3 separate regions of the Homo sapiens genome follow, and all the other regions are linked to region 1. Evidence: fine-mapped expression QTL. A gene starts in region 1. Each other region holds a variant in brackets. All regions are shown on one strand. Distances are from middle to middle. Region 1 holds the start of FAM131B-AS2 (FAM131B antisense RNA 2). Region 2 overlaps EPHA1-AS1 (EPHA1 antisense RNA 1). Region 3 holds the start of EPHA1 (EPH receptor A1).

Region 1 (8,174 bases):
TCTCACATGCACGGTTTAATTTTCATTGCAGCTAACATTACTATTGCCCAAGAGTGAATTCACACCCATCACTGACCTCCCTCGAATACACATCTCTGCTGGTGAAACTTTCCAGAAAGCTTCCAAAAACACTGCTTTCACCAGCCCTCCTGACCCACCCCACACCTACTCAAAAATCATGAATGCCTCTCCAGTGCTCAAGAGCTCCTTGGGTGAGCCACTTCACCTCCTACACCCTCCAGCCCCGCTTGCCTCTCCAAGTATAGCTCTATCATTTTCCTACAGGAACCTTCCACTTTCTGTTCTCCAAACATCCCTCTCCTCTCTGGATTCTTACGTCCTGCCCATCCTTCGAAGCCTTTCCTAATTTGACTCCCCGAGTTGACTCCCTGGTCTGAGTGCCTGTGACTCACAGGATTCTGCAAAGCTCACTGGCCCTTGGCATTTCTTCCTATGCTGTGTCCGAGTGTAGGTAGACATCAACACTATCAGTGGACTCTGGATGCTTGGACTAGATGACCATCAGGGTCATCTTCGTCACCAGAAATTGGACGATCTTATTTCCTGAACTAGAAGGCAAGAACCATTTTGTAATTACAGCTTTTCTATTTTGAGCATTCCTGTACTAGATACAGAACCCAACACTCTCTAGGTATTAGCTCACCCAATCTTCACAACCACTGTATGGAGTAGAGAATGTTAAAGATTGAGAAACTGAGGCTCAGGGTTCACCTAACTTGCCCAGTCTAAGGACTTGGGAGAAGCTGAGCCAAGAATTCCATTCCAGGTCCATCTGACACCTGAAGGCTGAGCTTCTTGCAGAGATCTCTTCCCTCCCATGTCCTACCCTCCTGGGCACAGAGCACAGTGCCTGGCACGTGGTGGATGCTGGCTCAACCAGTGTTTACTGGGGCTGTCTCTTACCTCCAAGCCCTCAGGCAGAAAGAGTGCTCAGAGGAGCAGGGAGATTAACTCAAGACCCAAGAATGGGAAAAACCAAGGTGGAACTGGTGATCTCATCCCTCCCTTTAACTTTCTGGGGTAAAGGCACAAGGAAAGGTCCACCAGATCCTCCTAATTCAGAGCCCATGCTCTCTGCGCCGTCCCAGCCAGGCCCCACCCAGCCCCACACCCAGCCAGGCCTCTCCTCCAGAGGAGCATTTTCCTACCATTGTTCCACCAGGCTAACCCCAGAGGATGAAAATTCCTATCCCGCCACCCCGCAACCCCCGTGTCCACCCTGACTCTCCAATCACCTTATGCTTATGCTCTGGCTCCTGACCCAGCCCCGCCCCAGTGCCCTGGTACCAAGCCTTGTCCTATCACCATCCCTCACCTGGTTTTGGTTCTGAGCCGGTGGGGGCACGGGGTGCTGCTTCTCCTGCACTCGGGGCTTCTCCCTCTGCTGGGCATAGGTGAAGCTGGGAGGTTGAGGGGAGCCTGTGCCAGCAGAAAGAGCTTCGGGGTGCCCCAATTTTTGATTTGGTTGTGACCCAGATCCACCTGGGGCTCCAGGACTGAACTTGGAAGCCACAGGAGTAAACTTAGGAGTCACTGGAGAAAACTTAGGGGCTGGAGCCGGAGATGAGGCTGGGGGCCCTCGGGGCTGGGTGTTAGCCAAAGACACAGGCTGGGTCTGGGACTGGACATGGAGTTGGACCTGAGGCTTGGGCTGGGGCTGGGGCTGAACATGGAACTGTGTCTGGCTCTGAGCCGGAGCCGGAACCTGGGGCAGAGGCTGGGAGCTGGAAGGGGACTTCCAAGGAGGCAGGGGTGCTGTGCCCCCGGCTGCAGGCTTGGTACTGGACTTGGAACTGAATGGAGTGGCCACTGGTGGGGGCACATATCCAGATGACACCTGCAAGGGGTGGGAGAGGGAAGAGAGATGCAGTCAGGAGGACACCATCCTCCTTAGTTCTATGCCCAGTCTCTCTGGCCCTGAGCCCTGCTTTTCCTACTCTCCGGTCCCTTACCCGGGCTTTGAAAGGATCATTCTTGGTCATGTCATCCAGCAGTGAGGACAGAGAGTCGATCTCCAAATCAATACTGCTCACCTTCTCCCTGGGCTAGAGGGTCAGAGGTCAGAGCACCTATTCCATGCCTCTATCCCCCCACCCCCAAGGCAGAGGTGCAGGGGAGGTAAGAAGAAAGGGCCCTCTTCTCCTCTCCTTGGGGGTGTCCAGTGCAGCCGCCCCTCCCAGGCCTCCGTACCTGTGGTGGGGGCGGTATGGGGGCCTCAGGCCCTCCCTCCTCCTCCGGAGGAGGCGGCGGGGAAGGGAAGATCTCCTCCTCCAGAGGCGCAGGGGGAAATGATTCCTCGATCGGGGGAGGGGGCGGCGGGAAGGCACCTCCCAGAGCACCCTCTGCATCGTCGCCATCCCCAGCAAGGGGAGGTGGAGGCAGGGGAAAGTCTGGGGTAGGAAGGAGAAAGACGTCGGCCGGGGTCCCTCTACCCCTCACCCAAGCTCCCCTCAGTTAACCGCTCTAACCCCTAACCCAAGAACTCTCTCAGGGGTCCCAGAGCGTGTGGGGAAGCAAAGGAGGGGCGCAGGGCGCCCTGGGAGTACCAGGTCAGGAAAGGCCGGGCGCACTGCCGAGGAGTGGTGCAGCTCCCGTTACACTTCGGAAAACGGACCCGGAGGGGAAGATTCGTGCCCCACATTCCCGACTCCCACTCCCAGGCGGGGGACTTGGAACGGTCCCAGGAGCCCTGGCTCCCAGCCACGAGCTCCACGATGAGGTAAGAACATCTGCTCGGGACAGGGTGGCTGCGCCCAGCCCCCTCGGCAACAACCTTTCCAGACATCCCCAAATTCCCGAAACGACTGCCCCCCACCCCGGCTCCTGCCGGGGTACATTCCCCAAGCCCCGCCGCATACCTTCCGGGGGCGGCGGGGGAATCTCGCCCACCCGGCCCATCTGTGCGCGCTGGGCCCCGGGTGCCGGGGGAGGCTCGCTGTCCCCGGGCCGGAAGGGATTCACTTTGGGCTTTGGGGCCACCACAGGGCCGAACTTCTTCTGCGGGGCGTAAAAAGCCGGAGCCGAGACCGAAACGGAGATCGCGGGAGACGGGCGGGGGGCCGCCATGGCCGGGCCGGGCTGCTGGGGTGGGTCGCCGGGTTACGCAGCGCGGAGCCGGGCTCAGGAGCCCCAGGCGGTCCCAGCTCCCCTTGGTGACCCCCACTCGCCCCCTCCCGGCGCCCCGCGCCCCCTCCCCGTGGGGCCGCCCTGCCGCTCCCCGCGCCTCACCGCAGGCCGGAGCGTGCGCGCCGCGTCTCGGGTGGCCGCCTCGGCGCCGGGTCCGCAGACTCTGCGTCCCGGTCCGGAGCAGCCTCCAGCCGGGCGGGGAGGGACACACGGAAGGAGGAGGGAGGGAGAAGAGAGGGGGCGGGGAGAGAGCGGCGCCCAGACCATACAAGGAGCGGCCCGGAGAGGGGGCGGGGAGAGCGGGGAAGGGCGGACCAGGCAGGAAACTCCCCCAGGAAGGGGCCCTGATCCTGCCTCAGGCCGGAGGCTCCGCCGAGGTCCGCTCGCCCCCACCCCACTCACTGCCGCCCCCGCCGCCCCAGCCCGGCTCAGACCCCCACTCCCTGAGCACAGGCCTCTGATGTCATTTCCTGACCTGCCTCCCCCTCCCCGCCCGACCCGCGGGTGCCCGAGATCTGACTCACCGTCCCCCTCCGGGCTTAGCCGGCGGAGGTGGGGCGGGTGCCGCCGAGGTAGCCACGCAGCCCCTGTGCGCCTCCGGCCCGGCCCAGCGACCTCCTCTCGGGCCTGCCGTTACCCGGTCCCCTCCTGCCACCACCCGCTACCCGGCCACCCCGAGTCCGCCTGGGGTGGCCGAACGTATGGAGCTGGGCTCCAGGGTGCACGGGGATGGGGGGTGAGGAGCGGGGCGTTCTCCCTCCCAGCACCCCCCAGCTGACTCTGTGCCCGGAGGGGGTGTGTGAGCCGGAACCTCCAGCATTCTTGGGGATACGAACTTCCAACGCTGGGCAGCCTCTTAAGGCTTCTAGGAATTCGCATCCCCAGCGCCCCAGCCAGCAGATCGGTTGCGAGAGGGACCGTTCGGGTCCGCGGGGCCGGGAATGGAGGTGGGAGGGCGGGGCCGAGGCGGCGGCCGCCTGCGGACTGGAGACCCGGGAGGACGGACGCGGACGCGGGCTGCTCGTCTTTTACGGCCCTTCAACGCCCACCACGACCCACTCCTCTTGGAGACCCCGGGCGACGGTGGGGCTCTTGGGCATTCTGAGACTGCGCTTGGTGGAGACCCCGGGCGACGGTGGAGCTCTTGGGCATTCTGAGACTGCGCTTGGTGGAGCCCCCTACTGGCCAGACTGGATTTCTCAGCCTGCGACTCAGCCCCAGGCTACACGAAAGAAGCCAGACCTGGGTAATTCTTCTAGTTCTTTTTTTTTTTTTTTTTAATTGCACTGGGAAACTTCCCCAATCTCGGCCCCAGTTCTTTCTCCAAACTAAGGAGTCATGGCCTTTCGCCCGCTAGTCCAGTATGCACCCGTAGGCGCTTCATTTTCTCTCCTCTTGTCAGCTTTTACTGCCTCCTGAGGCCTTCGTCTTGTTCACACTGAGTGTCCAGTCCCTCCAAATCCGGCTACACTCTACTGGCAAGGAGCACCTGGGCCATGTTTTAGAGATCATCCGAGGACTAACCCCAAAAGTTTATGAAGAGAAAGCAGAGGCCGAGCTGAAGAGATGGACCCGGGTCACACCCAGGTAAAGGCAGGATCTAAACTGAAACTGGTGTCAGATCTGGTTGCCTTGCACCCCTGATATCAGGTGAAGCAACACTGGGCAGGATAGAGCAGAGTGAGGTCAGAGTGTGAAGATCCAGCCTGATGCCCAAACTGACGCCTCTTCATTCTCCCCTGCTCCATCTGTAAACGTCACGGTTAATCCATCTACTTTATTGCATTATATAGAGAAATAAATGAAATGTCATAGCTGTATGCGCTATATGACTCAGTATTATTATTCAAATTCCAGTTCTGCCCAGAATGAAAATTCTGACCTGGTTACACTAAGGCGTTTTCCCCCATATGTCCCTTTCTGGGTTGCCAGGCAGATCTCTCAGGGGCCTCGGTATGTGCAATGTCCTCTCTTTCCTTCAACCTTATTAAGTCTTTAATTATACCTAGGACGACATCTTAATCACTTTTGCAAACCCCACTGATCTTTTTCTCTGGCATCTCATTGTCTTTGTCACCACCAGTATTTCTCACAGCCACAGGCATGTGTGGCCATGTATGATGGGTAGTACGCAGTGCACACCTCTCTGACACGCTCAAGCCAGCCCTGGGCCTGTCTCTGAAGACATGTTAGAAATTTGATACTGGATTTCCTGTGCATGTTGGAGATTGTGTCTTGGGCTTCACAGACCAAAAGTCTCATCACAAATCCTTCAAAATATGGCCCCTTTGGGGAAAAAAAGATAGTTAAGAAGATGATTTCAAGATAACTCATAGGAATAAAAGCTATCTACCCTCTAAATGTCTCCTTAAGTAATGTGCGCGTGCAAAATAGAGTATGTGTAATTGTTAGGCAGCTGAACCTATTTTTAAATCAGAAATAGAAGAGTGCGTAGGCAGGCATAGTTTTACTGACAACTAAGAGCATTCAGAATGCGGAATATTCAAACAAAGACTTTTAAGCCAGCCATTCTAAATACAAGTAGAAACACCCAGAGTATCCCAGAAGAACAGAATCACTGCCCAAGATGTCTCAAGAGGAGCAGCAGAGTCAGTGCTCTTAAAATGAAGACAATGGGCTGGGCGCAGTGGCTCACGCCTGTAATCCCAGCACTTTGGAGGCCAAGGCAGGCAGATCACTTGAGGTCGGAAGTTTGAGACAAGCCTGACCAACGTGGTGAAACCCAGTCTCTACTAAAAATACAAAAATTAGCCTGGTGAGGTGGCGGGAGCGTGTAGTCCCAGCTACTGGGGAGGCTGAAGCAGGAGAAGAATCGCTTGAACCCAGGAGGCGGAAGTTGCAGTGAGCCAAGATCACGCCACTGCACTCCAGCCTGGGCAACAGAGTGAGACTCCATCTCAAAAAAAAAAAAAAAAAAAATGCAGGAAATGAACAAGAGTGGCCTTAACGATTGCTGGGCATTTTTCTTAAGTAAGCAATTCTAATTGATATCCTTAGGCAGTATGTGTGAAGTACAGCAAATAAGAAGATGTTCCTGACTAAAGAATGCCCAACAGCTTAAGACCAGGCCAGGGAGACAAAGTGAGAAAATGGCCACTGCCCTTTACTACCTAAAACATCTTCACGCGCCTCCAAGGATTTATAACCATCAGGTACCAGAAAGTTTTCTTCAAGAGTGCACAGCATAAAGTAGGAAGTTAAGAGCAGTCAGGGAAGGAAAATGAAAAGACAGTGTCACAACAAAAGAATGATTTCTAAAATGGAAAGAGAAATGTGACCAGGAGGTTCTTTCCATATGCCAACTGCAGATGGATAGAGGTTCACTCACGGGCCAGGGACCACGTGAAGCATTCTGAAAACAGCAACAATAGCAGCACCCTAATAACATCAACAACTATAATAGCAGCACACGCTGAGAGAATGCTTAGAATATTGTTTGAGGTGCAATGCTAAGCACTTTAAATATATTAGCCCTGGCCAGGCACAGTGGCTCACGCCTGTAATCCCAGCACTTTGGGAGGCCAAGGTGGGTGGATCACCTGAGGTCAGGAGTTCAAGACCAACCTGGCCAAGATATAGTGAAACCCCATCTCTACTAAAAATACAAAAATTAGCTGGGCGTGGTGGCACGTGCCTGTAGTCTCAGCTACTCAGGAGGCTAAGATGGGAGAATCACTTGAACCTGGGAGGCGGAGGTTGCAGTGAGCCAAAATCGCACCACTGCATACCAGCCTGGGTGACAGATCGAGACTCTGTCCAAAAAACAAACAAACATATATGTATGTTTGTTTATATATATATTCGCCCCTTCTAATCATCACTATAAACCTGTGAGGAATATACATCATTATCCCATTTTTTAGTTAAGGAAACTGAGGCTAACTGGATGTTGGATTTCTCACCTCCTAAACTGCAAAATTTTTTTGCAACACAAATATTAAGACTCTCCTGCCCCATCCTTGCTTCCATCCTTGTATTCCATCACTTCTCCTCAGGCCCTCCTACCTGGTCCATCAACAGCCCCTTTCAAGTCTGCCTTCACCCCAACACCCCTACTTTATACCTGTGGGCTACCATTTTCTCTTTCTGTCTCATGACACCATCAAATTCTGTCTGTTTATATATCTATCTGCATGTGAACACATACACACATTTTGTATATGCAAGCTATATGTATACGTGCTTTTGTAAAATAGCACATTTCCAGAAGATGTCAAGAATTGTTAACAGCACAGCCAGGCGCAGTGGCTCATGCCTGTAATCTCACCACCTTGGGAGGCTGAGGTGGGAGGATCACTTGAGGCCGGGAGTTCAAGACTAGGCATGGCCAACATGGAGAAACCCCGTCTCTAGAAAAAATACAAACATAAGCCGGGTTGGTGGTGTGCGCCTGTAATCCCAGCTACGAGAATTGCTTGAACCAGGAGGTGGAGGTTGCAGTGAGCCGAGATCGAGATCGTGCCACTGCACTCCATCCTGGGCGAGGAATGCGACTGTGTGTCAAAAAAATAAACAAATAAAAAAGAATTGTTAACAGTAGTTAATGTTAGGGAGTAGATTGAGGAGGACAGAAGGCTTTTATACTTTTGTATTTTGTCCCTGTGAACATGTATTACTTTATAATCTGAAAAAAGAAAGGAGAGAAATGAAAGAGCCGTTGTATCTTTTTCCTGATATTGGAGCACCTCCCTTGCGCTGAGTACTGTGTGCACTCGGCCTGCAGCTTCCCACTTGCTCCCAGATTTACTGCCCCTCTCATCCCACTGGCCTGCATGCCAGTACAAAAGAATCTCTCCCTGAGGGAACTGCAGACACGGTGGATGATGAACCATGGATGGGTTGGGCGCGCATCAGGATGAGGTCTGGGTGAAGCACACAGCAAGACCCAGAGACCTTTGCAGTCAAGGCCAAGGTTGAGCAGCCTCCTGCCCTGTCCAAGGGCCACTCCCCCAAGAGAGGGGTGGGACTGACAACCACAAATGCCCACGTTTCCTTCTTTCTTCAGG
Region 2 (8,348 bases), 120 kb before region 1:
TTATGTTCACAAAATATAGGCCTATTTTCAGCTTTACCTAATGCCACTATTAAACTTGAAAGTCATTGGACTTTGGCAAAATATTTTGCTGCATGAGTAGTTGAAATTAAAAGCTTCAGCAAAAGAAATTTACTCCCAAATTATTTAAACCATTTTACCCAGAATATTCCTAGAAAACTATGTTATCAAAGAGTACAACATGATATCGTTCATTGTATTTTCCTATAAGGACAATATGATAGAAGGTTGGTTTTCTGACTAAAACTTACCATTAAATTAATCCTCTATATGGCCAAAAATACACCAAAATAAAAGTATTATCAATCTTTGAAATAAAGTAGTGAAATAAGTCTAATTCTTTAATAAAATCTGTATAAGCAGTACTATTCTTAATGCAAGTGTCCCAATCATAAAAAGCACATATAGATCCTAAAAAATTTAACTTGGTATTATAAACTTAACTATTTTTATAATAGGTTAGATTTACTAATCTTTTATAAAGTCTAGATTGTTTTTCGTAGAGAGAACTTTAGAATAAATGTTTAGACAGCCTAGATACCTTAAAATTGTTTGTTAAAGATGTTTGAAATAGATATTTTCTTTTCTTTTTTTTTTTAGATGGAGTCTCACTCTGTCAACCAGGCTCGGGTACAGTGGTGTGATCTCAGCTCACTGCAAACTCTGCCTCTTGGGTTCAAGTGATCCTCCTGCCTCAGGCTCCCAATCAGCTAGGACTACAGGTGTGTGCCACCACACCTGGCTAATGTTTGTACTTTTAGTAGAGAGGGGATTTCACCACGTTGGCCAGGCTGGTCTCAAACTCCTGACCTCAGGTGATACACCCGCCTCAGCCTCCCAAAGTGCTGGGATTACAGGTGTGAGCCACCACACCCACACTTCTTCTTCTTTAAACATTTCTTTGATAAGCAGAAACCTTCAAAATCATTCTACTGATCTTAATGCTACCTCAAACTAGCAGAGCAGAATTTTAAATCTATGTTTCATGGTGGCTATATTAATAATGATTATAGTGCTTCTCCCACCACAACTCAAAAAACTAAAAAACTCTAAAATCTAACCAGTGTCATATATAAAGCTTAGAGTCAGACCTCTGTCTCCATTTAGGAAATACTTGACATTGAGCCAGGCTTGTGTGGCCTAACCCAGCCCCAATTCTCTCCTTCCTCAAATGAAATAATATCTATGAAATTTCTTGAAATTAAGCACTGTACAAACATAAATTATTTTTATTTGTGGAAAAAGAAGTGGAACATTCTCCTAGCAAGATGAGAGCTGGAGAGTCATCTTTATTAAGGGAGCTGGGAGAATTTCACTGGATTCCTTTTCATTTGACTTAGAGGTAGATGGAGAGAGGAAGGAGGTCTGTAAGGCAGTTTCTCAGTCAGCACCCCTCACTTTCCTTCTCCATCTTCAAGACAGCTGCTGTATATTCACTATCAACAGGAACAAAGACAAGATGAAAAAGGGCTCCTGTGCCTCTGAACAGCTTCTGGACCTCAATTTACTCTTGGATAATCATTTCTGGCCCCTACACTCACTACCCTCTTTTGACCTCCCTCTGGCTCCAGTGTGCCCATGTCCACCCTACCTGGCCAGAAGATGGCTTCCTGAACTGGACTCTATCGTCACCTTTGTAGAGGGCTTAACCCAGTAGCCCTCTACAGGCTACAGTCAGCTTCCAGGATGTGAGGGAGCACTGAAACTTTCTGCATTTATTGCAAAGCTTGAGGAATAGTTTCAATTAACAGAGCTTCTAAAAAGGTGCTTCCAAAATATCTCTCACAACCTACCAAGGATGGCATAAAACACTTCAGGTTTGAGGCAGAGAACTGTTGGAACAGTTTGTATTTTGCGAAGGAGAAAAATATGAAAATGTTCAGTTTACAAGGCACAGCAGGATAGAAGTAAATGTGTGAGGAAATAAAAATTAATCTCTGTTTCTAGCATTGGCTTGACTGGCACCTTTCTTCTAAACTCTTCAAAGCATTTCAACATAAAAATATCTACTATTCACTGAGGGCTTATCATGGACTGGACACTGTGCTAAGTGCTCTGCATGGATCGTCTCATTTGATCTTCACAAAAGCCCGTGAGTCAGGTATTACCATCCTCCCCATTTTACATCAGAAGAAACTGAGGCAGTAGAGACTTTAACTTGCCCATTGCTGCAAAGGCACAAGGTAGGAACAAAGATTCAGACTTGCACATTCAGGGTCTAGAACCTACACCTTTAGCCACCAGGCTATGCAGCCTCCAGAGGGGTCTTGGTGGGCTAAGTAGATGAAACAACCTCCGCTACACAGAGTGCATGTGATACTGAAAAAGATTTGAAAATCTTGCGAAAATATCACAGCCACGATGGAATTCCCAGGTCCCAGACCACAAGATCTCAAATCTATTGTAGAAACTAAGGGGAACTGGTTTACTGAACAAGCTGAATTCACAAACTGTAATCAGAAAAGTGCTGTGTTCTTTCTCATCTCCATACACTCAAACCTGCACTATGGGGCTAGTCCTTCTCTGTGCCTTGGACTAAATCCATAACAAGTAGCATGAATGTTCTAGTTCCTCCCAAAAAATCAAAACGTTTTCATTCGCCTTAAGTCCCCAAAACATTCTCACTGCAGTCTTAAAAATATCCAGCCCAAGGTAAAATCAAACCTCTAAACCTTGTTTTAAGATAAAGCTTCTTCTGACTCCCAACCCCAAAAGCTTAAAGTGGGGAATGTTGGCTTCTTCTCTCTTCTCTAACCTTCCTAGCTTCCTCACCTCCCTCCCCTGCCTGGCCCCCACTAGACTGCTTCTGACTCCTCATGGGTTAGAGCAGGGGACAGAGACAGGTAAGAAGCAGAAATGTTCTTGTTGATGTGCAGTGGGGGAAGCACTTGGAGAGCAAGAAGGAGATCAGACTCAAGAAGACAAGAGAAAGTATAGAGAACAAAGCTGGAGGATCTTTAATCATGAATTAACCCCAGGGCAACCTGGGATGGGAGTAAGAAAAGAGATTAGAATCTGTGTTAGTTTCCCATTGCTGCTGTAACAAATTGCCACATATTTGTGGCTTAAAACAACGTAAATGTATTCTCTCACAGTTCTGGAAGTCGGAAGTTCAAAATCAATTTTACTGGGCTAGGGTCAAGGCATTGGCTGGGCTTGTTCCTTCTGGCAGCTTCAGAGGAAAACTCATTTCCTTGCCTTTTTTCAGCTTTTAGTGGCTGCTGGCATTCCTGGGCTTGTGACCTCTTCCTCAGGTCATTCTAACTTCTTGCTTCTACCTTCACATCTCTTGGCCTTTGGCGTGGGCTGCCAGTCATCCTGTTCCATTCAGCTCTTCATGGATACAGCCGACTGGGGCTGTGGATGTATGTGGGCAGGGGAGGGAATGAAGAAATGCAGCCAGGATAGGGCACACCGCAGCACCAAGCAGCTACAACATAATCAGATTGTGAGCATTAAACAGAAGGCATGTGGAGTAGTTTTCTAAAGCAGCCTGTTCGATTCTTTGTAAAAGGCCCTTCACGGTTTCCCCAGCTTGATATGGGCTTGGCCCTAAAGAGAAGACGGAGGCAGAAAGATCTGATGCTGGTGTTCCTGCCTCTCTCTCTAAAGACCCTTGTGATTATATTGGGCAAACCTGGCTAACCCAGGATAATCTCCTCATCTCAAAATACTTAATCACCCCTGCAAAAATCCCTTTTGCCATAGAAGATAACAGTCATAGACTTGGGAGATTAGGACAGAAGGTGGACACATGTGCAGGGCCATTATTCAGCCTATAACCAGGTCCAAACTGTTAGGGAAAAATTGAGGCAAATGCTTAGGCCTGGAGGGGAGCCAGAAGGCTCTAGAAATAAAAACGAGTCAGCTTCCTTAACTCAAGGCCAGGAAGCAAACTCTATCTAAAGAGCAGGAAACACCCAGCCAGAACTCTTTTCTCTGCTCCTTTTGAGTATTAAGACACGTCATTTTGCTTAATTCAGTCATGGAAAAGATCTTGACAGCAGAAAGACACTGCTTCTGCTTTTGCAAACCTCTGTGTGGAATTCCACAATGCCAGAGCATAAAGAGACCTTTGCCTTCTTCCATTGCAACCACTTTTTTTTTTTTTTTTTTTGAGATGGAGTCTCACTCTGTCTCCCAGGCTGGAGTGCAGTGGCATGATCTCAGGTCGCTGCAACCTCCACCTCCCGGCTTCAAGTGATTCTCCTGCCTCAGCCTCCCAAGTAGCTGGGACTACAGCAGGTTCGT[A/G]CCTCCATACCCAGCTAATTTTTTGTATTTTTAATAGAGACGGGGTTTCACCATGTTAGCCAGGATGGTCTCCATCTCCTGACCTCGTGATCTGCCTACCTTGGCCTCCCAAAGTGCTGGGATTACAGGCGTGAGCCACTGCACCTGGCCGTTTGCAACCAGTTTCTTTTAGAAAGGAATGTGAGAGGCAGCATGGTCTAGTGAAAAATGCCCAATATTTGAAATTTGACATCGGGTATATCCCAATTTTCATCTTGGCTGGCTCTTTACCAGTTGTCTACCTCTGGCCCAGTCTGTGTCCACCTTGTAGAACTGTTCTGAATGTGACAGAATAACATTTTCTTTTCCTCACTCCTGAGACATGACACAGATTCTGTCCCATCTTTACAGCCGAGCCCGTATCAGGCTGGGGAAACTGAGAAGGGCCTTTCAAAAAGAATCAAATAGGCTGCTTTAGAAAAATATTCCACATCGGCCAGGTGCGGTGGCTCAAGCCTGTAATCCTAGCACTTTGGGAGGCCAAGGTGGGCCGATCACCTGAGGTCAGGAGTTCAAGACCAGCATGGCCAACATGATGAAACCCCATCTCTACCAAATATACACAAATTATCCAGGCATGGTGGCGGGTGCCTGTAGTCCCAACTACTTGGAGGCTGAGGCAGGAAAATCACTTGAACCCAGGAGGTGGAGGCTGCAGTGAGCCAATATTGTATCACTGCATTCCAGCCTGGTTGACAGAGTAAGACTCTATCTCAAAAAAATAAAATAAAATAAAATAAAATAAAATAAAATAAAATAAGAAAAAGAAAAGGAAAATATTCCATGTGCCTTGGGTTTAGTGCTCAGAATCTGATTACCTTGTAGCTGCTTGGTGCTGCGGTGTGCCCTGTCCTGGCTGCGTTTCAGCAGGACGAGCTGAATAATGAAGAGAAGAGATGCCCAATTCTCTGTCCAAGATGGACACCATATGGAGAATTGCAGGCACAAGGATAACACTTAGAGAAAAACAGATCAATCTATATTTTCTTTATTAATTCCAAATTTCTGAAGCCCTGAGGCACCTACATCAAAACCCACAACCTTTGGATTTGAACACTGAGATTTTGATAAACTAGGGAACTCAGGATATGACATAAGGGAAATCTTCCATTTCATGAGAGGGCAAAACCTTCTCTTTCTGACACAGACTTGGGAATAAATAAAGGAAGAGAAAGGTAGAAGAAGCAGACATTCAAATATATGTGTTCTAAACAGCCCTCCAAGGGACTGAGGCCCTGAGGATGAAGAGATAGGATAAGAAGAGGCCAAAGGTGGAAATACTTTCCTGATCCCCATTTAGAGCCCTACCAAGAGACTGTTGTTCAGGGTGACCTAGAAACTCCAAAGATGTTGAGGGACGATAGAAAAGCAGCAGTGAAAGAGGATGGCAGGCAAGCCAATCTGAGCATGCTCCTGGCTCCCTAGAATATGGAATTCATGCCTCAAGTTCCTGTTTGTCTCGAATGGGAGGTGCAGATACAGGAAGCAGCTGGGAGCTCAACCAAAGAACATGCCAGAGGGGATCAGCTTGGTGGAGAAAATGTGGCCATATCACTGAGAGCTACAGAATGGACTTCCCAACTCAGGGCTCCAGAAGAAATCAGTCATGTCTGGGAGGTGATGTGTGTGTGTTTGGGGGAATCACAGCATTGGAAAACCAGAAGTGGGACCATTTCAACAAGAAGATGGCCACCAAGCCTTGACAAAGCCAAGACAACAAACAGTCCATGGGTTCCTTGGCCACAGCCTCCAACAGTGGATGACACAGGTTGGATCCACATAAACTATGTCTCAACAGAAACCTGCCACGTGAATAAGCAAAGATTCGAGTGGTTGTCCAGCTGCAGAAGCCAGCACCAGGACCAGCACAAAACAAGAGTGATTCTACATATCCATTCAAAGCCCCACAAGTCAGTACTATCAGGTTTTGTCTTATGCCCAGAAGCCCTGTTGATAAGGAAGAAAAAGAAATATACCACTCTGATATAAGGTAGAACTTCAAATTAATTAAATATTTACCTGGAAAGATCATTTTAAGTTAACAGAGACCATTTATACTGTAAAAAAACTAAGATACCTTTAATTGGTATATTATATTGTTTGCTTTTTGTCTTCTTTCTACAGTACCCAACAGAATGGAGACTCAAGAAAATAATATCATTATAGAAAACAAAATAGCTACGTCTTCAGGGAACATCAGTAAAGAGTATTCAAATTCATTATCCTAGCATATAGACAAGTTGATCTTGAAGTAAAAATTGTCCTGGACTTCATGTTTGCACTTGTAATTTATTAAGGAAAGACTTCTTTTCTAGAAATGGAATGCATAATGCCCGTTCAATGTTAATACATAATAAGGAAATTATGTAAAGTTTCAATTAGATGATTCTTATAAAGCTTTTAGTATTCATTGAATTTTAGTTACTCATCCTCATTAAGTGTTTTCCCCTAAGTCATTTATGAGAAAAGACCAAAGCATAGAAATGCCACTTTAAATTTTTCCTACATGTAGAGATAGGAAACAGAACAGTATTCTAACTCAGTCATGCCAGAGCTAATTCATGATGAGTTGTATCCGAGGCTGTTGAAGCTGCTGTCAAGCATAGCAGTCATCAGTTCCGGTAAAATGCTTCCCAGAAGGTACCTTTTACATTCACTGGGAAAGATGAGGAAACGTTAATTCTGGTAAAAATGGAATGGAAAGAACTGAATGGAAAGGTTAGTAACTGAGAACCAGAAATAGTAGTTCCCTGGGAGTGAACTAAATTATTGCTAGTAACAGGAAACTCTTGAGGCAAGGAGATACTGGGGTGGGGAAGGAGAGAGTAGGAAAGTGGTTAGTGGTGGGGCAGTTCCAAAGGAGTGAAAGAGGGGAAAGACCCAGGTGAGCAGCATGCCTGGGCCCACACAGATATCACAGGAAATCAATTATGTCCAAGGCTGTGGGTCTTTCATTGCCTTCTTTAGTGAAACTCCTGGTATTGGTCAATCTCAAAGGAAATGATTCTTCCCCTCTCAAGTCCAGTTTGGAACTCATGATGGAATGACTTTAGTCTCAGACCTCAGAATCTAGTACCTAGAATGAAAGGAAAATGTTGTAATGCACACACTGAAAAACACAGACTTCTGCAGGACCTTGAGGTCCAATTCCACCATTTGGTTTCACAAACAAAGAAACTAAGACCCAGGGAGATTAGGTGACTTGTCAAAAGTCATAGAGCAATTTGTACCAAAGCCGGAGTAAAACCCATTGTCCTGCCTCTAGTCCAGGGTGTTTGCCACCATAGAATATTTCCAGATTTATTTTTTATGGTATAAATAGTCGAAAACCTATAGTTATATCTACTTTGCTGAGATACAGTTTTAATTGTATCTTTCCTTGAATGCTCACTTATGTTGCCCAAAGGCTATTCAGTAGTGCCAGGCATTAAGACAGCAAATTCATTTCCTAATATCACTATCTCAATGCGATACGTCTATATCAGATATGTGAATTTTTTAAATTTCATTTGGATTCCTATGAGAGAAAAAATATGTGTTTATTATAAACATTTAAAAATATTTGTAACAGTTTGTTCTCTCATTGTTATAAAGAACTACCTGAGACTGGGTAATTTATTAAGAAAAGAGGTTTAATTGACTCACAGTTCCACAGACTGTTCAGGAAGCATGGAGAGGAGGCCTCAGGAAACTTATAATCATGGTGGAAGGCGAAGTGGAAGCAGGCACATCTTACACGGCCAGAGCAGGAGGAAGAGAGACAGCGGGGAGGTGCCACACACTTTCAAATAACCAGATCTTGTGAGAACTTAACTCACTATTGGAAAACAACAAGAGGGAAATCTGCTCCCATGATCCAATCACCTCCCACCAGGCCCCTCCTCCAACACTGGGGATTACAGTTTGACATGAGATTTGGGCAGGGACACAAATTCAAGCCATATCAATATTGATAAGCTAAAAATAAGAAAACAAAAATATCTATAATCCTATCACCCAGAGATTAACCCACTGACATTTTATGGTCATCTTGCCTGTTC
Region 3 (8,000 bases), 28 kb before region 1:
TCTTTACCGCAAACTGTTTTATCAGCAAGGTTTTTATGACCTGTAACTTGTGCCTACCTCTTATCTCATCCTGTGACTTAGAATGCCTTAACTGTCTGGGAATGCAGCCCAGTAGATCTCAGCCTCATTTCACCCAGCCCCTACTCAAGATGGAGTTGCTCTGGTTCACATGCCTCTGACAATACTAGTCCAAAAAATTAGTTTGTACTAATTCTCTCATAGTAGTTGCTAGCAACATCCTGGGTTACCCTGCTGGTGATGTTGGTTGCATTTTGACCAGAGCCTATGGATATACAAGACCATGACCTAGGCTGGGTGTAATTTCACCTTATCCTCAGTCAGAAAGGAGCTGGGTAGGGAGTAGAAGGGGAATAATATGAACAGGGTAGTGTTAACGTCAAGTTTGTAAGAACAAGCCACAGCCTGGGCTGCAGGGACTCTGCAGGCTTTCCTTTCTGACTGCAGAATGAGAACAGGGCCAGACGCCAGAAGGGGAAAGAGGTGTCCCTCTGGGAGGCCCTGTCTGCTACGAGGCCTGTGGTTCCTAGGGGACCAAAAAAAAGGAGGAGTTTTGGGGTTTGATTTTGTAATTTTAAATGATGTCTTAGGGCATCTCTATAGGGAATACTGCCCAGCATCGAAAAAGAGAAACTGTTGATGGAGGCAACAAGAAAGATGGATCTTAGAAGGATGAGTCTTAGAAGGATGGATCTTGGGAGCATCATACTAAAGAGAAAGACCCAGAGTCCAGAGACGGCATAAAATTCTGGAAAGGATAAAACTCACCCAAATGGACAGAAACCCTAAGGCTGGAGGTGGGATTGATTCACAGGAGCACCAGTGAATGTTTTTAGATGCTGAAACTGCTCTGCATCTTGACTGAGGTGGTGGTGCATATACATTTGTGAGAGCCCATTGAACCGTACACTTGGAATGGCTGCAACTTATTTTATGCAAGTTGTCCCTCAGTAAAGTTGATTTTGGAATGGAAAAATAATGATGTCTTAGTAATTGAGGTTGTTCTGCTCTGGGAGCAAGCTGGGAGGCCTGCAGGAGAACTCCAGCAATTCCTAGCCTCCACCATTCTCCTAGCCAATTAACATTTGCTCAGTACCTTACAGTTCATAAAGCACTTTCTCCTCTTTTGATCATTACACTGACTCTGTGGGGTGGACGTGATTAATCTCATTTTATAGCTAAGGAAACTGAGGCACATTATGGCTAAGGGAACTGGCCAAAGTCTCCTGACTCAAAATCCTGCTAGCTTTTTATTTTCTGAGACCATCCCTGAATATAGCCTCAGAAATCATCTAGGTCTAGGGAAACTGAAACCATGGTCCAGAGAACATAAATAATTTGACAAAAGTTGTACTGCTAGTTAAGAACAGAGACTAAACTTGAAGATGTGCCTCCTCTCATGACAAACTAACCAGAAAATGTCAAATCAAGATAATCCTGAAAGGAGACAGAAAGTGGACATTCATTCCCCATATGCAGAGACTTTCAGACCAGGATAAAGAGCCTATCCTAAAACAAAAAGCAAGACTTTTTTTTCCAGGGTTCTAGACTCCATGTCTCACTGCATGGAGCAGTCTCCCCCACTCCACACACCCACCCCCCACCCCCCACCCTCTGGAGTCCCAAGGGTCTTGTAACTTTAACAAACTGCAGCAGCAAGCACATGCATTACCTCACCACAGTCTGGCTTATGTCCTAGCAGCAATTGTCCAACGCTTGCTCCATTTCCCCCCTTCTGTTGGCTTTGTACCCTTCGCCCATTCCTCCCTGCTGAAATCACAAAGCTCTGACCCCCGCCAGCCAGCGTGAGCCTCCTCCTCCTTCCTGGAGTCTTTAACATTAGAAAAGAGGCCTCTGGTGCAGAGCAATGTGTGTCAGATGGCCCCTCTGTATACACATTTTAAAAGCATGTAAGTGTGGGAGTAGAGGGAGAGAGGGAGGGAAAAATACACGATGGTGTGTACACAGCGAGGAAGCAATCCTGGGAGGACTTACAAGAAACAGTTGATGGTGGTTAACTTGGGGAACAGAAATTAGAGTGTTGGAGGGCAGAGGGTTCTACTTCCCATTTTGTTTCTGTATGTTCAACATGAATTTCCTAACCAATGTACATGAATTACATTTATTTATGCAAATAAGGATAGTCTGAGCCAAGAACTGATGGGCCGTGTTTGTCATATACGTATCTGCATAAGAAAGCAAAAAAAAAAAACAAAAAACCTGAGAAGCATTACATTTTGAAAATGAGAAAAAGCACCTATAATCCACCACCTCCCTTCATTCACAGTACCGAAATGTGCAACAATGTAAATGATAGAAAAATTATGAACAATTTACCCAGATGGGATGGAGCGAAAGAAGGAGGGGCCAGGAGTGGACCCCCAGCCTCTTTAGTAAATGCATCACTCCCCTTTGAGCTACTGTGATCCCTGTGTGTACCTTGCCTGGGGTCCACTCCTGCCCGCCATTTCAATCATTTGTGCAATTATTTATGTCTCAACCCCCAGCATCCCCAAATTAATAGCTTATATAGGGCAAGACATTGTCCTTCTGTTCTTAGGTGCTTCTAGAGCTTCCTGCATGCATAGCAGAAACTGAACAAACATTTACTAAATAGAATATAAGAAAGTCTCGGCAGAGCGCAGTAACTCAGGCCTGTAATTCCAGGACTTTGGGAGGCAGAGGCAGGGAGATCACTTGAGATCAGGAGGGATCACCTAAGGTCAGGAGTTCGACACCAGGCTGGCCAACATGGTGAAACCCCGTCTCTACTAAAAATAGAAAAATTAGCTGGGTGTGGTGGTGCACGCTTGACGCTTGTGATCCCAGTTACTCGGGAGGCTGAGGCAGGAGGATCGTTTGAACCAGGGAGGCGGAGGTTGCAGTGAGCCAAGATTGCACCACTGCACTGCAGCCTGGGCCACAGAGCGAGACTCCATCTCAAAAAAGAAAAAGAATATAAGGAAGTCCGCAAGAAAGTGAGAGGGCACGTGGTTTGACACCACTAAGATGGGTTAAAATATCCTTCCCTGCCACCTGTGGCTGGAACCTTAACCAGATATTCATGTCTGCTGTGTAAGTGCATGTCAAGGTTCAAACTCCTTTTCTTGTTTACCCAGCCCTGGCCCACACCTGCCTTTCTGCCCTGATTCCCAAGACAAATCCTGCGCCCCAGCAGTCAAACTGGTCCATTCACCACTCCCTGGGCGCACCTTGAGGCTCCCTGCCTTCAGGCCCTTGCTGGTGCCTTTCCCAATCTCTGCCACTGAAAACCCAGGTCACACCAGCTCTCCCTGAAGACTCAACTAATGTGCCCCGATGACTGGGCTTGCTTCCTCTTCTAATCTCCAGATGCTTCACTGCAGGTTGTACCCCACCTTGCATTGTGGTCATCTAAGCCTCCCCTGCTAGAGGGTGAAGATATGACTCTTACCCCTTGCCTTCCCCGGCCCTATTACCCAGCTCTGGGGCCTGCACAAAGACAGAAAGAGGAATATAGGAGTGTAATTCAAGTCAGAGGTAGAATTAGGTTAAAAGCTGGATCAAGATTGGGTTGAGTTTAGGATTAGAATTGGGAAAAGGTTCGTCAATTCTTAATCCCACCTACTAGGCGGCGCCCGCAGTCTCATTCGGGTCAAGACGCCTCCGGTTCTTGAATTTGATTACCAGTCTAGCAAGTTTCTTTCCTGCCCTACTGTCCCTTTAAGGAGGTGAACCAGGTGAGGCCGGGACTCCGCCCCCGGCGCTGGCCCCGCCCCCCGCCCCCGCCCGGCCCGCCCGGCTCTCCTAGTCCCTTGCAACCTGGCGCTGCCATCCGGGCCACTGTCCCAGGTCCCGGCCCGGAGCTATGGAGCGGCGCTGGCCCCTGGGGCTAGGGCTGGTGCTGCTGCTCTGCGCCCCGCTGCCCCCGGGGGC[G/T]CGCGCCAAGGAAGGTACCGACCCCCGCCCCCGCGCCCCCAACCCCCGCGCCCCGCCCCTTCCCGGGGCCCGGCCAGCACCCCCCTGCAGAAGCCGGCATTCCTAGGGGCCATGTTCCCCGAGACCCTCGCCAGCTCTCTCGCTGTGCCCGACCGCCAGGCTATCGACTGGCCAGGCCCATCTTTGGTCTTTAACCCCAAGCGGCTGCTCTCCCGGGTCAGTCACCCCCACTCCCGCAGGCCAGCAATCTGCTCCTGGGAGTGGGGAGGGAATTCCGGACCCTTGCCAGGAAGTAGCACCTGCACCCGCACCCCTGCCTGCATTCCCAGACAGTCCCAGCTTCAGGTGCCCACCCCAGAGATCTGAGCCCTTGGAAGTTGAAGGTGGGAAGTCGCCTCCTGCCAACCTAGGCCAGGGACAGAGGGAGCTGCCTCCGGGAGAAGGGTTAGGACTGACGCCACAGGGGTTCCCAGTTGTCCGAGTCGAATATTCCATGTGAAAGTTGGAACACCCTCTCCGGCCTTACTCCCCCCCACTTCCCAGGCAGGTAGCTGTGCCTCTTATCCCCACTTCACGGCTCTGATCACTGGCCAGGTCAGGCCAAAGCAGGCTTCGGACAGTGGAGGTGAGCCTCCCTACCCAGGAAACCCCTTCTGAGGTCCCCGGTCCACCCTGCCCACTCCTGGCTAGCAGAGGTGAGCTCCTCCTGCCCTCCACGCGTTCCAATCCTGCAGCTGATGGGTGTCCCAGGACGCAGCAGCCTGGGTAACTGAGCGTCTCGTGGGGCTGCTCTTCTTGCATTGACTTTGGTCAAAGACCCAGCGCCCCAACCCTTGTCCCACTCTACCTGCCTTCCTTCACACACACAAAGAAGAGTGAAATCCCTGGAGCTCTTCACTCCTCAGTCCTGAGCCCTTTTTCTCCCCTAAGCCTCAGGAAGTCACAGCTTTTAGGAACAGGATGTTGCAGCCTGGGGCTGAGGCCCCAGAATGATTAATGTGGGCTGCAGGGGCACCTCCTCCCCCAGAGGTGACAGACTTCTTTTCTCCCCACTTTCAGTTACTCTGATGGACACAAGCAAGGCACAGGGAGAGCTGGGCTGGCTGCTGGATCCCCCAAAAGATGGGGTAAGTGTCGGAAGAGGGAAGGATCTTGGAAAACTCCTGAAGGCCAGTGGGAAATGGGGTGGAGAGGTGGGTGGAGGAACAGAGAAAAGAGCAGGAAAAACTGGAAGTGTCTCCTCAGGGAGGGGGAGAGGAGGCTGAGTCAGAGCCTCCTCAATGGGACAAGGGGTGGGGGGGTCAGACTTCACCTCAAGATGAACGCTTGAATGGCCTGGCTCCTCCAGTGAATACTTGGGAATATTGTGAATACAAGCTGATACTTGTGAGGGGGAGAGGAGCTCACATACCCGGGGAGAGAATGCACCATGCTGGGGATGGTTGAAGGCTGAGACCAGTGCTTTGCTTGGGGAGGGATAGAAAAGGCAGAAAAGCATCCTCAATCTGAGATCCATTCATCCCAATGAAGTTGCATTGATAGGTTTCAGGGGGTGGGGAAACCCCATGAAAGTGTACTCTAAATTCTGTATATGTAAGCGGGCATTTTTTTTTCTGGAGAGACCAGCCAAAGCTTTCATCAAATTCTTCAAAGGGTCTTTGACTCCTCCGAAGTTAAAAGCTGCTCCCCTAAAGGTTTCTGAGCCCTTAGCTCATCCTCCACACCTCCTCAGGCTGACTGCGTGCACACCATGCATTCCAGCTGTTTGAAAGTGTCAGAGCTTGTTCCAGTTCCCTTCCTTCCTTGGATGTTCCTAAGACTCAGTGAACAGGTTGTGAGGTGGGTCTGAGAGAGCATATTCAGACTCAAATGCAGAGAGCAGCTCTTATGATGTACAAAAAACCAAACTCAGTTTTTTCCTACTGCACTCTCAACACAAATCACTTCGGTGACCTGTGGTCACCAAAATGCGTGTAGGGATTCCTCCCGCCTGCAGTCAGTTCTCTCTGGCAGATTCTTCAGTGGACAGTAGCTGAGTGTCCTCTAATCTTATTCAGTTCTTACACTATCTACCTGGAGATAGCCTCAGGTTGAGGGCTCAGCCCCACAAGACTGCCCTCCTCTAGACAACAATCACAAGTAACATGTTGTCACCTATACTTCTGTTCCATCGGCTGTAATCAGGTTTACCTGACCCTCCTCCTCGGGTTCAATTAGTTTGCTAGGATGGCTCACAGAACTCAGGGAAACATTGACTTGGATTTACTGGCTTACTATAACGGTTATTACAAATGGTACCATGAACACCAGATGGAATAGCTGCATGGGGCAAGGTATATGTGAAGGAGGCGAGCCACCCTGCAGGGACCTAATCATGTATGGCCATCCAGAAGCCCTCCCAACCCCATCCTTCTGGGCTTTTATGGAGACTTCATTACATAGGCGTGATTAATTAGATCATTGCCCACTGGTTATCAGCTCAACCTTCAACCTCTCTACCTTCCCTGGAAGTTGGGGGTGGGGCCGAAAGTCCCAACTCCAATCACAAGGTTGCCTTCTGCCACCCAGGCCTCCCCCACCCCAGTCTAGTTCCCATCCCCGGCAGTCAGCTCACTAGCATATAAAAAGACATTTGTCACTTCAGGGATTTTGAGGGCTTTAGGGGTTGTTTGCCAGGAAATGTGGACAAAGACCAAATATATATTTTACAATTCACAGCACCCTTTCTGCCAGCAGCACAGCTGGTCACAGAACCACTTAGGGGGCTGCCTAAGTTACTGGAGCATCTACAACTCTGGCTCTGGAACCCCTTCTCTCAGGGTTTCCTTCCTTACCCCAGTACTTGAGACTTCAATCCAGCCCCTGTTTCTGGGGTCAGGGTTACTTGCTTTCTTTCCCTCTGGGTCCTACAGTCCTGGCTCCGTTCTCTGTTCTCCTACAGAGTAGCCTGTAATTAGAGCTAATAGACTAAACCATAGTGGATCCTCCAGGAGGGGCCGTTTGGAAGATCCAGCCCTAATAGTTGACTTATCTCATAAATCAGCTAATCACCCACAGTGATAGCTGCAGGTCAGACTTCTGGCTCCCATGGGCCTTCCTTGGGCCCTTGACACCTCCACCCAAATAACTCTTCCCTAATTTGACTGGAATGGCAGCAAGGCCACTTTCTCAGCACAGGCAAAACAGTCCTGCATGCTAGGAGGGCAAGGAGACAGCCAGCAGTCATACACTCCCACTATCTACCTTGTCCCCCTCCTTCTCCCCATCTTTTCAAAACACACACACACACACACACACACACGCACACATGCACACGCAGGCATTCAGGTCCAGAATGCACCCATGTGGCAGCCAGCAGCGCCTGAGTGATAAGCAAAAGGATCCTTACTGCTGATCCTGGACAGCTGGCTCTCGCCCATCTGTCACTGCTGGAACTGGGAGAGGCAAGGCACAGCTGGGAACATCTGCTTCTCCTGGCTCCAGCTTCAGCCACGGCAATCTGGCTAATGAGCTGCACGTTAACCACTCACCACCCTGCCCACCTGACCCCCGCCAGTGCCTTCCACTTGGGCTTCCCCAGCACAGCCTTCCTTAGGAGAAGCCTCCTGGTGCCTTTTTCATTCCAGCTTCCTTGCCTTTTAGACACCCCTTGCCCAATCTTTGAACTCCCTAACATAATGCAGAAATATGTGCCTCATAGCAGCTTCTATTTCTGCCCCACCTCACCCCAAATTTTTGATTAATGATTTTTTTTTTTGCCTTTTCCCAGAGCTGAGGGTAGGGATGAGGGCCCCTGCATTATAATGGAGTAGAAACCTCAGGAAAGTGAACTTTCTAAGGGCCTCAGTCTATTCTGCATTAAATTATGGGGTTGCAACAAAAATATCAATAGAATACTTTATAGAATTTGAGAGCTTTTGAAAATTCATCTGACAGAGGAAATAAGAATGGTTGAGAAGAGTTTTTGAAGAATGAAATGGGAGACTTGTCTGACAAGCAGATATCAGAACCATCAGCTATAACTAAAACATATGTCTTGCACAAGATCACTCAGGTTAATGGGACAG

What was found.
Region 2: its variant is fine-mapped to the expression of FAM131B-AS2 in whole blood (INTERVAL, PIP 0.96).
Region 3: its variant is fine-mapped to the expression of FAM131B-AS2 in whole blood (INTERVAL, PIP above 0.99).

Annotation. Positions count from the first base shown.
Region 1 is chr7:143,376,485-143,384,658 of GRCh38, reverse strand. It overlaps FAM131B-AS2 (FAM131B antisense RNA 2), which reads left to right and starts at 3,634. Exons shown (of 2, transcript NR_161353.1): 1 at 3,634-4,393; 2 at 4,550-5,504. ZYX (zyxin) reads right to left here and starts at 3,314. Exons shown (of 10, transcript NM_003461.5): 1 at 3,250-3,314; 2 at 2,880-3,102; 3 at 2,212-2,411; 4 at 1,974-2,066; 5 at 1,337-1,858. The coding sequence starts at 3,087. It overlaps MIR6892 (microRNA 6892), which reads right to left and starts at 1,973; the gene lies at 1,859-1,973. It also overlaps a transcript of FAM131B not described here. RefSeq lists silencers at 2,795-2,844, 2,875-3,904 and enhancers at 4,405-4,494, 3,618-4,518, 4,675-4,754.
Region 2 is chr7:143,495,002-143,503,349 of GRCh38, reverse strand. The region is part of intron 2 of EPHA1-AS1 (EPHA1 antisense RNA 1); the gene reads right to left. It overlaps LOC105375547 (a long non-coding RNA gene), which reads right to left. Exons shown (of 2, transcript XR_928075.3): 1 at 7,954-8,348; 2 at 6,578-7,384. Among named protein-coding and RNA genes, the nearest start is that of TAS2R41, 21 kb to the right of the region's middle. The variant A/G (reference allele first, on the strand shown) is at 4,270.
Region 3 is chr7:143,404,671-143,412,670 of GRCh38, reverse strand. It overlaps EPHA1 (EPH receptor A1), which reads left to right and starts at 3,815. Exons shown (of 18, transcript NM_005232.5): 1 at 3,815-3,947; 2 at 4,993-5,060. The coding sequence starts at 3,866. EPHA1-AS1 (EPHA1 antisense RNA 1) reads right to left here and starts at 4,858. Exons shown (of 5, transcript NR_033897.1): 1 at 4,785-4,858. RefSeq lists enhancers at 3,131-3,743, 7,328-7,842. The variant G/T (reference allele first, on the strand shown) is at 3,934.